2 linked regions of the Homo sapiens genome follow. The protein of the gene in region 1 purifies or fractionates together with the protein of each later gene. This does not show direct contact. Each region holds a gene or a part of one and is shown on either strand. Other genes may lie near its edges.

Region 1 (7,022 bases):
ATGGAGCAGTTTACTGTCGGGGGAGGTAACAGAGAAGCGGCCGCACCTCCAGATGCCTGCCTGGCTGCCACTTCCAAACTGGGCCTGACTTGATCCTGGGCACTGAAGAGGCCCCAACAGTCTACGGAATCGTTTTGGAAGCTCTGCACGTCCTGGCAAGCCAGATGAGTTGCACGAGAAAGGCCCTGGTGGCCAGAGCGTTCAGCAAATCTGTGTGTGGCGCTGCTCACCTGGGGCTCCCTGCTGCTGGCAAATCCCAGAAGGTCCGTGGGGATGGGAGCAGGAGCCACTCCAAGGTGGGGTGTGGGGATGGCATCGCCCGCTTGGCTCTGTTGAGGTCTGTGTGTTTTCCGATTTGGTCTTTTTGGTTATTCTTTTTGGTGAGCGGAGGGAGGGTATTACCTTTTACCATATCAGTAAACTGTAACTAATATGCATCTTGTCTCTAAGAATATACAGAAAGGGACAGAATCATTGCAGACAGTGTCATGCAGGGTTGCCTTGCATTACAGACGCACGTAGGAGGCTCTGAGGGCTGGCAGTGAGGATGGCCCGGTGTTCTCCAGACTAGATTTGGTGCCTCCGTCCCTGGCAGGATCCTTTGTGACCACTGGGATCCCAGTCTGTGGGGCTCCCAGGATGGGGCCATGGGGGCTTGTGCCCTCCTCCTTCCCAGAGCAGAACACTTTGAAATCGAGAAGTTCCTCAAGGTAAATGTACCTGCGTGAAGCCAGAGGACTTCGTTTCACGTGCAGAGAAGCTGCAGAAGGCCCAGGAAGATGCCAGGGATGAGTGATCTTCTGAGAAGGTGCCCAGCAGAGGGGCCACAGCACAGCCACTGACAGACCCAGCCCAGAGGGCTGCCACCTGCTTCCTTAAAGGGCCACAAGGCTGTCCCTCAGGACAGCGAGGGTGATGGCCACAGGAGGTGAGGGGCGACTGTGACCTTCCTGAGCACTGCCATGAGCAGGGGCTCTGCCGAGCCTCTCAGTCATCTCATTCCTGAACAAGAAAAACCACTCGCACCCCGCCTGCTCCCTTACACCGTTTCCTAAAGATGCTTTACTGCCTGAAGTGTCAGGTGCCTCTTAAAGGGCACCCCAGGAGAGAGGGGCAGGGAAAGGACCTTGAGTCCTCCCTGAGGCTCCTCCATGCTAACCGGGTGTTTTCTGTGTGCTGTGGGGTTGGTATTTCAAATCTGAAAACAAGATTTGAAAACACGGTCTGCTTCTATGTGCAGAGCCCTCAGAGTGTGGCTCAGAGTCGAGGGGTCCTGTGGTCACAGGGCAGGCGGGGAGCGTCAGTGTGCCTGGCGGGCTTGCGGCATAAAAATAACCCGCGCAGCTTATCGACAAGTTATTATTACCCCGTGTGGCCGGGGCCTTCTGGCCCCATGTGCTTCTCTGTGCTTTCCTGTTAGCTGCCCTTAGCCCAGTGGAAGCCAAGCTGTCGGGGTATCGATCAAGCCGGCTCTCAGAAAGGTTTTCCTCCCCAAAGCGGTTTCAGCTTTTCGCCTGCAGCTATTTTTAGAGGCTTGGGCTCCGCAGATGGGGCCTCTCTCCAATGATCCTGTGTGGCGGGGCTGGGGAGGAGCCCAGGCCAGGACCCCACAGGGAAGCTGTCTGGGTGGGGGACAGGCTTCTCCTTCCGCCAGTGGGTAACACCAGGCTTTGCTCTCAGTGCCCAGCTGGGATGAGCCCTGGAGGCTGCTCCGGCTGGGATGTTTTCTAGATATTTTTGGCCTATTTTCTGGGTAACAAGGAGTAAATTCTGAAAATGGAGGTCTCACATCCCACCGTCAGCAAACCAGGCCTCTGAGTTAAGCCCTGATCCCTTTGAAAATGCAAATTCCCGCTGGGTCACTACCACCCGTGTGTGTCTCGGGGGCTCCCTTGACCAGGCAGAGCTGGATGCAAACTCTCAAATGGAAGAAAAGGCTGAGAACGTGGTGCCGGCCCAGCAAAGTCAAACACCCCAGAGCTCACTGGCCCAGGGCCAGCCACATCCACTCATTCCCAGGGTGACTCACAAGATCCTTCCCACCCAGGACCATGGCTCTCTCGACAGCCCTGACAGTGACGCCAGGGTAAGGATTCACTCCTGCAACCACAGGGGCAGGACACGTGGGAGGAATCCGCGAGGACCTACCTCAAAGTGGATGGCCCCGTTCCCGTCCGCATCAAAGGCGTTGAAGAGGAAGTGTGCATAGGTGGTGGCATCTGGGGAGGGCAAGGAAGAGGCTGGGGTGTGTCGGGGCTGCCTGGCGGCTCATCTCCCACCCCAGGCAACCCCAGCTGAGGGTGCTAACTGCGTCCTGGCTTGGAGTCCCTGTTTCCCACGGGACAGGGGCAGCACCAAGCCTCCAGGATGCAAGGGGCAGCAGGAGGGTCCCCTCCCTCCACACTGGGACACAGCAGGGCTGCCCTGCCTCAGACTCACCTCCCTGAGGGAAGAACTGCGCGTAAATGAGTTTGAAGGTGTCTTCGTCCACCAGGCCCGTGGGACACTCCTGCAGCAGGAAGGCACCCCCTCAGCCCTCGGCCACCCCCAGCTCCAAGCCCGACTCTGCATGGTGCCTGGCTGGCCTCTCTCCACCCCCTTGGGGGCTGCCTGCTGCCTGTGGCACTGCTGGGGCCCCCTGGCCTGGGTTGTGGAAAGCCTGGGTAGAGGTGGGGTGAGAGGGAGGAGGGGTGAATAGGAAGGGGGTGACTGCTCCCCCATACCCTCCTCCTCTGTACCAGCAGCAAAGACACGGAGGGAGGAGCATGGCGGCCTCAGCGATGCCCATTCCGGAGCCTGCCCCCGCCACACAGCTTTCCCACAACACATAAGCCCCTTAAAGGCCCCTGGGATATTTACTGTGGCATGGAGAAGTTTCCAGGTCTCCCTGAGCCAGGGTCTCCAAGGCCTCTCCCGGGGGAATGGGGAACACTCACATTCTTAAAGCCCCTGTAGAGAGACTGCAGCTCCTTCTTGGTGAACTTGGTCTGGGCCTGCAGCTGGTCCAGCCCCTCTGGCTGGTGGCGCACCGTGGACAGCTCCAGCTCACTGTCGCTGCTATCTGGAGTGGGACACAGACCAGAGAGTGTAAGGCCTGTAGCCCTGCTCCTCCATCTTGCTCCAGTGTGGCCAGGGCATGGGCCAAAATAGCAGGTGGAGGAACTCTCTTTGCATGACTACCATGGACAGCCACACAGGCTGTGCACTGCACAGAGGGGGTGTGACTGAGTGGCCCACACAAGAGCTGTGCCTCTGCTTTCCTGCCCCCCACAGGGCGGGCCTCCCCATCGCAGCCCCTGCAGTGTGCCCCCCTGTCAGCCGCACAGTGGGACAAGGTGGGAGCTGCTCTTGTCCTAAAGAGGCACTGAACAAGGGGATATAGGAGGGGGAAAGACAGCAAGACAGGCATGAGGGACACTTGAACTTCAGTATCCAATTCCTAGACCACTTCCTCCATGTGGCCCTCCCTGACTTTCCCCAGGAATGGAGAGGGTGCCTCCCTTGGCCCTCAAGGCCTAAGGCGATGCTGTTCAGCTACAGTTGGCAGAGGGGTGTTATTCACATCTGGTTAGGAGGCTAAACCTCCAGGGCTGTGGGGGCAGGGATCAGACCTGTCCTTTAAAAACAATACACAAACTTGGCAGGGTGCGGTGACTCACACCTGTAATCCCAGCACTTTGGGAGGCTGAGGCAGATCACGAGGTCAGGAGATCGAGACCATCCTGGCTAACACGGTGAAACCCCGTCTCTAATAAAAATACAAAAAATTAGCCAGGCATGGTGGCGGGCGCCTGTAGTCCCAGCTACTCGGGAGGCTGAGGCAGGAGAATGGTGTGAACCGGGGAGGCGGAGCTTGCAGTGAGCCGCGATCGCGCCACTGAACTCCAGCCTGGGTGACAGAGCAAGACTGCATCTCAAAAAAAAAAAAAAAAAAAAAAAAAACCACAAACTTGTTAACTAACCATGGCTACATTTGAGGGGGAGGTGCAATTTCAGGTGATTTTTACTTTTTTATTTATGATTTTAAAAAACATTTTCCTAATTTCTTTTGGTGTGACATGCATCACTTTTACAATGCAAAATAAAGCTAGGGCTGAAACAGCACTGAGTGCCCACACCTTGCTGAGCAGCATCCTCGCATAATTACAGAGCGCCACCTTCCCACAGACCCAGGACTCATGGGCCCCGCTGCACCGTCGCCCTGTCTCCCCTGGGCCACACAGAATGGTGGTGATCCATAATCACCCTCATGGCTGGTACTCTGGTGCTGGCTGCTGCCTCTCCCACTGCACAGTGAGCTCTTCAGGGGCAGCTGTCCTGCACAGCTCATCCTGTGCCCGTGGTGCCTGGCATGGTGCTGGGCACTGGTCCTGTGCTGAGCTTGCTCCATACCCAGGCCTCTCCCGAGAGCGTGGTGGGAAAGACAGCCTGCACTGCCCACTCACACTAACCACAAGAGCACCCTGAAAGCTGCTCAGCAATTGGGCTGTTTCTTTGGTCCACACATGCTCCCCATCTCCAAGATAACTATTTCATACCATCCTTCCCCTTAAGTTTCCAGTATCTCCTCTCCCATCCTTACCCTCAGGTTGCTTCCCACTTCACTGAGAAGACACAAGCCATGGAGGAAAACTTCCCCAAGCCCTCACCCCACACCTACCCACCTGCCTGCACCTGGCCCAGACGTCTGCACGCCTGCCTGCTCCATGGCTGAACTGTGCCTGCTCCCAGCAAAGGCAAACCTGCCACTTGTGCAGTGGGTCCCGATCCCTCTCACCTACTCAGGCAAGCGGTGCCAGCCAAGTCTCCCACTCTTTCCTCATCACCTTTTCCCCTCTTCTGGATCATTCCCATCACCATATAGACATACTGTAGTATCTCGAATCCTTAGTCATATTAAGTATAGGCAAACCCTGTAAACCAGCATCCCACGCCAGGCAAGCATCCCACATAGACTCTTCCCCTGCCCAGGGGCCTGCACAAGGATGCTCACAGCAACAGCATTTTTGGCAGGAGAGTTGGAGGCAACTCAGGGGTTTATGGCAGGCAGGATGGGTAGGCAAAATATGGAGGCTGCACACTGGGGAGAACTGTGCCGTGGAGCAGATGTACACACAGCAGCGTGGATGGATGGATGGATGGATGGATGGTAAGAATCCTTTGATTAAGAGGCAGACTTTTCAGACTGGAAAAGCAAGATCCAATTATATCCTGTTTACAAGAGGGATACTCCTAATACAAAGATATATTAAGGCTGGGTGCTGTGGCTCACTCCTGTAACCCCAACACTTTGGGAGGCTGAGGTGGGTGGATCACCTGAGGTCAGGCGCTCAAGACCAGCCTGGCCAACATGGTGAAACCCCATCTCTACTAAAAATACAAAAATGAGCCGGGTGCAGTGGCGGGCACCTGTAATCCCAGCTACTCAGGAGGCTGAGGCAGGAGAATCGCTTCAATCCAGGAGGCGAAGGTTGCAGTGAGCCAAGATCGCGCCATTACACTCCAGCCTGGGTGACAGAGTGAGACTCCATCTCAAAAAAAAAAAAAAAAGATTTAAAATAAAAGAATGGAAAAACATTAAGAAAGCTGGATGTTTTATAATGATACAAGGATTAATTCATCAAGAAGGCAGAATAATCTAAAACAGACATCACCTAGTAACAGAGCTTTAAAATACCTAAAACAAAAAATTCAGAACTAAAGAGAGAAACAAAAAAGTCACAATCATAATTGGAAGATTTTAGCACCCCTTTCCAGTAAATGGTATGACAAGTGACGAAATAAAAGGTTTGAAAAACACCATCAACCAATTTGACCTAATTAATATTTATAGAACACTGTATAATTGTAGATACACATTCTTTTCAAGAGCATATCCTGAGGTTACCAATATATATCAGATGCTGGAACACAGACTCTTACCACAATGGTACTAAGTTAAAATTCAGGACAAGATATTTAGAAAATCTCAAGTATTTGGAAATAAACAATACATTTCTAATTAGCTCATAGGTCAGAGAATAAACTGCAAGGTGATCACATTTTGAGATATTTTGAATTGAATGATTAAAAAAACAGAGCATATCAAAATTTGCTGGATGCAGGTAAAGCTGGGCTGACAGGGAAATTTATTGCTTTCAATTCCTTTATTAGAAAAGAAGATAGGTGTAAAAGCAATGACATAAGCTTCTAGATCTAAGAGTCAGAATCTAAAAAATGCAGAGCAAATTAAATTCAAAGTAAATAGAAGAAAGAACATAATAAAAACAAGAGTAGAAATCAATGACAGGCTGGGTGCAGTGGCTCACGCCTATAATCCCAGCACTTTGGGAGGCCGAGGCAGGTGGATCACTTGAGGTCAGGAGTTCAAGACCAGCCTGGCCAACATGGCGAAACCCTGTCTCTACTAAAAATACAAAAAAAAAAAAGTTAGCCAGGTGTGGTGGTGCACACCTGTAATCCTAGCTACTCAGGAGGCTGGGGCATGAGAATCGCTTGAGCCCAGGAGGTTGGAGATTGCAGTGAGCAGAGATCACACCACTGCACTCCAGCCTGTTGACAGAGCAAAACTTCGTCTCAAAAAAAAAGAAAAAAAAATCAATGACAAATATAAGCATAGCCACAAACCTTATAATAAAGTCATTAAGAAACTCAAGTCACAGGCTGGAAAAACATATCTCCAGTATATGTATCTGACAAAGGACTCATTTCCAGAATACATAATTAACTTCTACAAATCAGCATAAGACTAATAACTCGATTTTGTAAACAGGCAAAAGACAAGGACGTGTCACAAAAAAAGATATACAACTGGCCAATAAGCACAGGAAAAGGTACTTGAAAGGACATGTGAGAATTCATGCAGTGATGGGAAAACTGGAGTACTGGCTCAGCCAGAGTGGAGATACCTCCCTAAGCATCTCAGGTGTTGGCTGAAACCCCAGAAAAGCTATGCTTTAGGACTGTGAACCACATCCTTGAGTAAGCGCATGCTCTAGACCCAATGACAAAGTCAAAACAAA
Region 2 (7,531 bases), on another chromosome or scaffold:
ACCATAAGTATCTATTCATATGAAAATAATAGTTCAAGTATACCTGGAAACTTTTCATTTAAATGCATTGAACCACTTTATAGACATTTCAATATACATTGTATATATTTGTGTCTTTATTAGGGCATAGATTTTGTTTTTCATTGTCATATTTTTATATATTAATATAAATATTGCTACTACTTTCATATATTCAGGAATTCTAAAATTTCTTTGTATCTTTATCACTTTCAGGCATCAACATTTGCCAGCAATGCCTTAATACTTCAACGTGTGTATTATACCCATTTCACAGATGAAAAGAGTTTTGCCAAACCATTTAGATAATGCTTTCCTAAACTCAGGAAAGAAAACAAATGATTTCCCCGGAGTTACCATGTAACCTCGATGGGTCCACAATCGCCTCACCCATACCCAACCTCCATCCCATTTCCCATTATGGCACCTACCCTAGTGTTGTCATGGTGACGATGGTATACCAGAAGGCTGCAGGGATGCTGGTGAACTTGCTAGCCGAAGACCCCTTCTCTGCGTAGAACATAACTGTAGCGAAGATGATGATAGCCATGGTGAGCGAGAAAAGCAAGAAGCCCAATTCTGAGGCACAACTCTTCAGTGTGTACCCCAGGATGCGCAGGCCTTGAGAGTGGCGGGAAAACTTAAAGATCCTGAAGACCCGGAAGACTCGGAGTGTGACAAAGGCTCCGCTGACGTCCTCATTGTCTGTCATCACCAGCCCAATGTAATAAGGCAGGATGGCCACCACGTCGATGATACTCATGACACTACGCACAAAACGGTAACGACTAGGCGCTGCAGCCAGGCGAAGCAAATACTCAACTGTGAAGATCATGACGCAGGCCGTGTCCAAGCAGAAGAAGGCCACAGCATACCGCTCTCCACAGGGCAGTTCTTTAATGTGACCTGGGCTTGATCCGCACGGCACTGTTTCCACCACATTCGCGATGACAGAGACGGCAATGAAAAACCCCGTGACATAGTAGAACACCAGGGCCATCGTGCTGGTGTGGGGGTTCTCGAAGGCCCTCCAGACCCTCTGCCTTGCAGTCATGGTGGGCAAGGCGCTCTCCCCAGCGGTGTCGGTATCCGCGTCGTCCTGCAGGCGCTCGGCGTTCTCTCGCCTGCGATCCTTGTACTCCTCATAACAGCAGTCGCCGATGATTTCCGGGATGAGGCCAAAGAAGGCCAGTTCTTCATCGTAAGCAGAGATGCACTCGTGGCGAGGATAGTGGAGCTTCCCAGTGCGGTAGAAATTCAGGATGTGGCGGAAGATGTCTGGGTCACGGTCAAAGAAATACTGCTGAGTTTCTGGGTGGTAGAAAAAGTCCCTCTCAGAACTGCCCAGTAGAGTGTCTGGGTAACGTTCCAGGGTGTCCTGCCACGTCTGGAAGCGGGTGCCACTCACATTCAGCACAATGAGAGCATCTTGGGTCCTTTTCCTCTCCTGCCTCGGGGGAGCCGGCATAGGCCCCGAGGCCACAGGCATCCACCCGATAGCCGCTGCCCTTGCAAAAGGCAGCCACGCTGCCACCCCCGCCGCCATGATTACTTGAAGCGGAAGGAAGAAGGGTAACGAGGCGTCTACAATGGGTCACCGAAGCAGCCAAAAGTCACCCACTTCCTCCAGTCAAGCAAAGTACTAGTGAGAAACGTGGTCCAGAGGTGTAACTCTTATTCCAAGATAGGGCTCCTGGTAAAGTCACAGTTCTCAGAAGGGCAACTTTCCCTCCAAGACAGGTATTTGGAATAATGGCAACAAAATACAACGTCCTAACAATCACCCTCAACAGAACCCAGCCAAATCTCTTCCTGCAGGTGGGCTAGGCCACCCTCTGGCACAAATAAGCACACAGGTGCAGCCGTTTCTTCAAACAGGTGTTTTTGATTTCTCCCCGGCACAGTCTGGATAATATAGGGTCAGTATGTGGAGTGTAGGATAGAGAAGACGAACGAGAGTCACCCAATAGAATTCTTTCGACGAATTAGGGAACCCTTACACCTACCCTTCTCACTCTTTCAAACCTTCCTTTCCAAGTAGCCCTTCCCGCCAAAGGAGTCTCAAAAAGGCGACCTGTTGTTGTAGCTCAGGAGATGCGGTCACAGCCGCTGCCCCACGTCTCTCTTTGGGGGTCCAGCTGCTGCTGCCTCTACTCCTCGGGCTGTATTTGCAGAGATGGAGGTGATGTGCAGTGGTTACGGTGGGGGGCGTTAATAGAGATTCTCCTCCCCCACGTCTACAAACACCCTCTGTGTCTGCCAAAAGCGTTCGCCCAATCGCCCCTTCACTCTCTTTTCAAGTTCAGCTCAGGTGCAGTGTGACAGTTACAGAGCTCAGGAGCTGGCAGCCGCCGCCGCCGTGGCGGCAGCAGCATCTGCTTCCGCGCAGAACGCGCCGCTCCCGCGGTACATACCTGGCCAAGTGCGCGCCGGGGCTTAGTTGCATAGAGACTTTCTCCTCGCCGTGCACCCGGAAAGGGAAGAGGAGAGAAAGCAGCTCGCGAGCAGCCGAATCCGATGCGCCGAGAGAGCATAAATAAAGCTCAAGCGAGCTCTTCTTTCCCTTCCCCCATCCCTCCGTGCCTCCCTCCTCCTTTTCACCTTCCAAAAGCCAGGCGCAGGCGAGCAGAGCAGCAGCAACAAGTTCAAAAGGTGCGGGGGAGGCGAGAACGGAGGGGACTCGCTCCTGCCAACTTACTGCGGGGCCACTGTCGCGGGAGCCTGGCCAGCGCGGTGCGGGGCTGCGGGGCGGCGGGGCTGCGGGGCGGCCGGGCGGGCGGCGTTGGCGCGGTGGGGCCGGGGCCGGGGCCGGCACGGGCTCTCGTCCGAGCGCGGAGGCAGAAGGCGCTCGGCAGCGCGGGGGCGCGGGAGGGCTGCTAGCTGCTTCCCCGCCAGTGGGTGGTCCTGCATCTCCCCGGGCTCCCCGCGCTGCTCTGCTAGTGCGATCAATAAATAAGGAGAAAATAAATAAATAACCGCGCGCACGCCCCGCCACGCAGGTTAGGAAAGGCGTCTCCTGCCTTTCCCTCGGCTTGACCTTTCTCCGCCCCCGCCCCCTCGGGCTCCTCTCGCTCCACCCCAGCCACCCACCAACCCCGGCGCAAAATGTCACCGAGGGAGAGCATCCAGGTGGATCTGCTGGGGAGAAAAGCGAGCCTCGGATGAACAAAGGGAAGCTTCACGTGCTGGGCTGCGGTGGTTTGGTGGAGGAGAGGAGAAAGGGGACCCGTGCCTTGCTTCTGCCTCTCGAGTCCCGGTTCAAGGCGAGCGTGGGAAAATGGGGGGAAAGAGAGCGAGAGAAGCTGGGAAGGAGGGTGAGCGGAGCGGAATGCGCAGGAATTGGTTGTCTTCTGGGGGCGACTGGAAGGCAAGACCCGCAAAGCTCCGACGCGGAATTTTTAAGTGCATTTCCTCTTTCTGTTTTTATTTATTTTCAAAACCAGATTGTTAACGTTGCAGGGATTGATATGCCATCTGTCCAACTTGCCAAAAAATCAGAGACTCTCCTCGATCGAGGTCTTGACACAACTCCTTTTCCCGTCCTTTACGAATAACAGGGATGTGGAGCCCTTTTCTAAATGTCATCGTCAAGGGGCGTGCGTCTCTGAAAGTTTGCGTCCCCTTCATCCTCTCTGCGCATCACTGCGCATATTTAAAATAGTTAAAAGAGTTAAAGGTGTTCGTATGAGGGGTTACTGAGGTAGAGAGACACAGGAAAATTGTCGCTACCAACCTTTTTGTTTTTCGCGTACCCCGCCCCCGAGTCATTAGGAATCATCCTTAAAACCAAACGTAACACATACAAGCCACTAGATGGCGTGGATGGCGAGAAGTTAAATCTGCACCTAAGGTTTGGATGCTTTAGGAAGGTGAAGGATCAAAATTAACTGGTCCAACAGAGAGTCAGATCACATAAACATCCCCAAACCCCTTCGCTGCCACCCACCTTTTTTGTGTTTATGTGACATATACTACTTAGGCTTGAGTCTGCATTTGGATAGTTGTGGGATGAGATGTGGAGAGTTTCCTTTTGAAATTCCTTTGAAAATTAAATCTAGATTACTGAATCATCATCATCATAGTAATTAAGATCTTTGGCAATAATGAGGCTTCATCTGTATTGATGAAGAATAGTAGCCTAATTTCTACCTAAAAATTACTTTTCATGGCTTGGTTTGACTGCCCTTGGTTTGTAAAATAAGTGGACTGTGTGTTGTACTTTACGGAAATTGACTTTTAAGCCCTAGAGATTACAGGCATGATGTGTCAACCTTGAAAATTTGAAATGGGATACGTCAAAGAAAATATATAAACTAAAAAATGAGTATAGAAAATAACCAGAGAATTTAAAATATCCTTATCATGTACAGGATTTTCTGTAGAGATAAAAGGGTATTTTTTGTTTGTTTATTTGTTTACAGAATAGAGATTTAAGGAATCCTGTGTCAGTAGTAATGAAGTCAGAGCTAATGCACCATTTAAGTTTGAGGACAAGGAACTGAAGACACCTGCTCTTTATCTATTTGTTTAAGTGAAAGATGCTTGTTAACCAATCTATATAGCCTGCATACCTGAAAACAAACACACAAGCATGTTACCTGGAAAATGGAAATGAGGGGCTTACTACCAATTAATATAAGAAAACCAACCCCTCGTTAGTCCAAACAGTAAGGTGGCACTATGACAGGTGCTGGGCATGGAATCCAGAGGGTGGAGCGCCATGAATATTTAATCAATGCCAATAATGGCATGCTTTCCTGTAAAGATGGGGCGAGGAACCTAAATAGAGCCTTTAAAACTGTGTGGGAAACTGAATGCTTACAAATGTAAAAGTAGGAGCTTAACTCACAAAAGCCCCAAAGAAGCAAGAACATAATATGTACAGTTTTTAAGAAGGTACTGGGATCTGCCCTCCTGCATCTTCAACAAGCTTCTTGATATAGTGGAAAGAATGTGGGCTGAGAACTTAAACACATCTAAATTCAAAATCTTGCTTAAGAAATTACTTACTGGCTTTGTTTCATTTGGCAAATTACTTCTATGATTAGAAATTATAGATAATGAAATTTAACTTTTCAGGCCTGTCGTGAAGATGAAACAGGATCATACTTCTGAACACCAGTGAAATACTTAGCACATGAAGTGTACTCAATATTGGTTCTTTTTTATTGTAATGCATAATGCTAATGCAATTCATTTTATCCAGCCCGTATTTGGAATTCCCTTAGATACTTTCCATAGTTATGTATTGCTTAATGACAGGGATACATTCTGAGAAATGTGTCTTTAGGAGATTTCATCACTGTCTGAATATCATAGAGCGTACTTACACAAACTTAGGTGGTATAGCCTACTACACACCTATGCTATATGGTACAGCCTATTGCTCCTAGACTACAAACCTGCCATCATGTTACTGTACTGAACACTGTAAGCAATTTGTAACACAGTGGCAAGTATTTGAACCTCTAAACATATATATACACAGAAAAGTTGCAGTAAAAATACAGTATAAAATATTTTTAAGAACGGTACACCTTTATTTGGCACTTCCTATGAATGGAGCTTACAGAACTGGAAGTTTCTCTGGGTGATCAGTGAGTAAGTGGTGAATGAATGTGAAGGCATAGCACATTACTGTACACTTCTGTAGACTTTATAAACACTGTATATTTAGGCTATGCTAAATTTATTTTTAAAATCTTATTTTTCCTTCAATAATAAATTAACCTTAGCTTACTATCTTTTTTTACTTTAAAAACTTCAATTTTTAACTTTTTGACTCTTTTGTAATAACACTTAGCTTGAAACACAACACATTATACAGCTGTACAAAAAAATATTTTCTTTATATCCTTATTCTGTAAGTTTTCTTCTATTTTTGTACTTTTTTTGTTTTGTTTTGTTTTGAGACAGAGTGTCGCCCAGGCTGGACTGCAGTGGTGCGATCTCAGCTCACTGCAAGCTCTGCCTCCCGGTTTCACGCCCTTCTCCTGCCACAGCCTCCCGAGTAGCTGGGACTACAAGCACCTGCCACCACGCCTGGCTAATTTTTTGTATTTTTAGTAGAGACGGGGTTTCATCGTGCTAGCAAGGATGGTCTTGATCTAGACCTTGTGATCCACCCTCCTCGGCCTCCCAAAGTGCTGGGTATTTTTGCACTTTTTAAAAACTTTTTGAATGTTTTGTTAAAAGCTAGGACACAATTACACTGGCACAGACCTACACAGGGGCAGGATTATCAGTATTACTGTTTTCCATATCCACATCTTTTCCTACTGAACGTTCTTCATTCTGTCTTCAGGGACAGTAACATGCATGGAATACCAAGGCATACCAATGCCTTCTTCTGGAATACCTCTTGAAAGAGCCTGCTTCAGGCTGTTTTACAGTTAGCTTTCTTTTATAAGTAGAAGGAGTACACTAAAAAATAATGATTAAAAGTATAGTATACTAAATATATAAACCAGTAACATCGTTTATTATCATGATCAAGTATTATATATTGTACATAATTGTATGTGCTGTACTTGTGCAAGACTGGCAGCACAGCAGCATCCTCACAGACACCTGAGTAACGCATTAGGCAAGGACATTACAATGGCTGCGCATCCCTAGGCAGTAGGAATTTTTCAACTCCCTTATAATCTTTTTGTTTTTTTCCTTTCCAACTTTTATTTTAGGTTCAAGGGGTCCATGTGCAGTTTTGTTACATGGGTAAATTGCGTGCTTTAGGGGTTTGGTGTGCAGATAATTTTGTCATGCAGGTAATCAGCATAATACTCAATAGTCCCCTCCTTCTACCCTCCACCCTCAAGTAAGCCCCGGTGTCCACTGTTTCCTTCTTCGTGTTCATATGTGCTCAATGTTTAGCTCCCACTTAGCAGGGAGAACATGTGATATTTGTTTTTCTGTTTCTATGTTAATTCACTTAGGATAGTGGTCTCCAGCTCCATCCATGTGGCTGCAAAGGACATGATTTGTTTTTTTTATTGGCTGCACAATATTCCATACTATGTATGTGCTACATTTACTTTATCTAGTCCACTGTTGATGGGCATCTAGGTTGGTGTCATGTCTTTGATATTATGAATAGTGCTGTGATGAACGTACATGTGCGAGTGTCTCTAGGGCAGAACAATTTCTATTCCTTTGGATATGTATCCAGTAATGAGATTGCTGGGTTGAATGGTAGTTCTATTTGAAATTCTTTGAGAATCTCCAGACTGCTTTCCACAGTGATCATGGCAATCAAGCAAGAGAAAGAAATAAAAGGGATCTAAATAGAAAGAGAGGAAATTAAACTACTTCTCTTTGAAAACTATATGATTTCATACCTAGAAAACCCCATAGTCTGCCCAAATGCTCCTGTCTCTGTGAACAACTTCAGCAAAGTTTCAGGATACAAAATCAATGTACAAAAGTTAGTAGCATTTCTACACATCACTAACATCCAAGCTGAGAGTCAAATCAAGAATGCAATTCCATTCACAATAGTCCATTATAATCTTAT

What was found.
Region 2: the proteins of KCNIP3 (region 1) and KCND2 purify together in Homo sapiens (affinity purification with western blotting; 2 studies listed by BioGRID). This does not show direct contact.

The regions. Positions count from the first base shown.
Region 1 is NC_000002.12:95,370,335-95,377,356, reverse strand, and holds part of KCNIP3 (calsenilin), read right to left. Parts: intron 3,062-7,022; coding exon 2,937-3,061; intron 2,510-2,936; coding exon 2,440-2,509; intron 2,220-2,439; coding exon 2,149-2,219; intron 1-2,148. UniProt on the Homo sapiens protein: Calcium-dependent transcriptional repressor that binds to the DRE element of genes including PDYN and FOS. Affinity for DNA is reduced upon binding to calcium and enhanced by binding to magnesium. Seems to be involved in nociception.
Region 2 is NC_000007.14:120,268,666-120,276,196, reverse strand, and holds the start of KCND2 (A-type voltage-gated potassium channel KCND2), read right to left. Parts: upstream 3,023-7,531; 5' UTR 1,565-3,022; coding exon 450-1,564; intron 1-449. UniProt on the Homo sapiens protein: Voltage-gated potassium channel that mediates transmembrane potassium transport in excitable membranes, primarily in the brain. Mediates the major part of the dendritic A-type current I(SA) in brain neurons.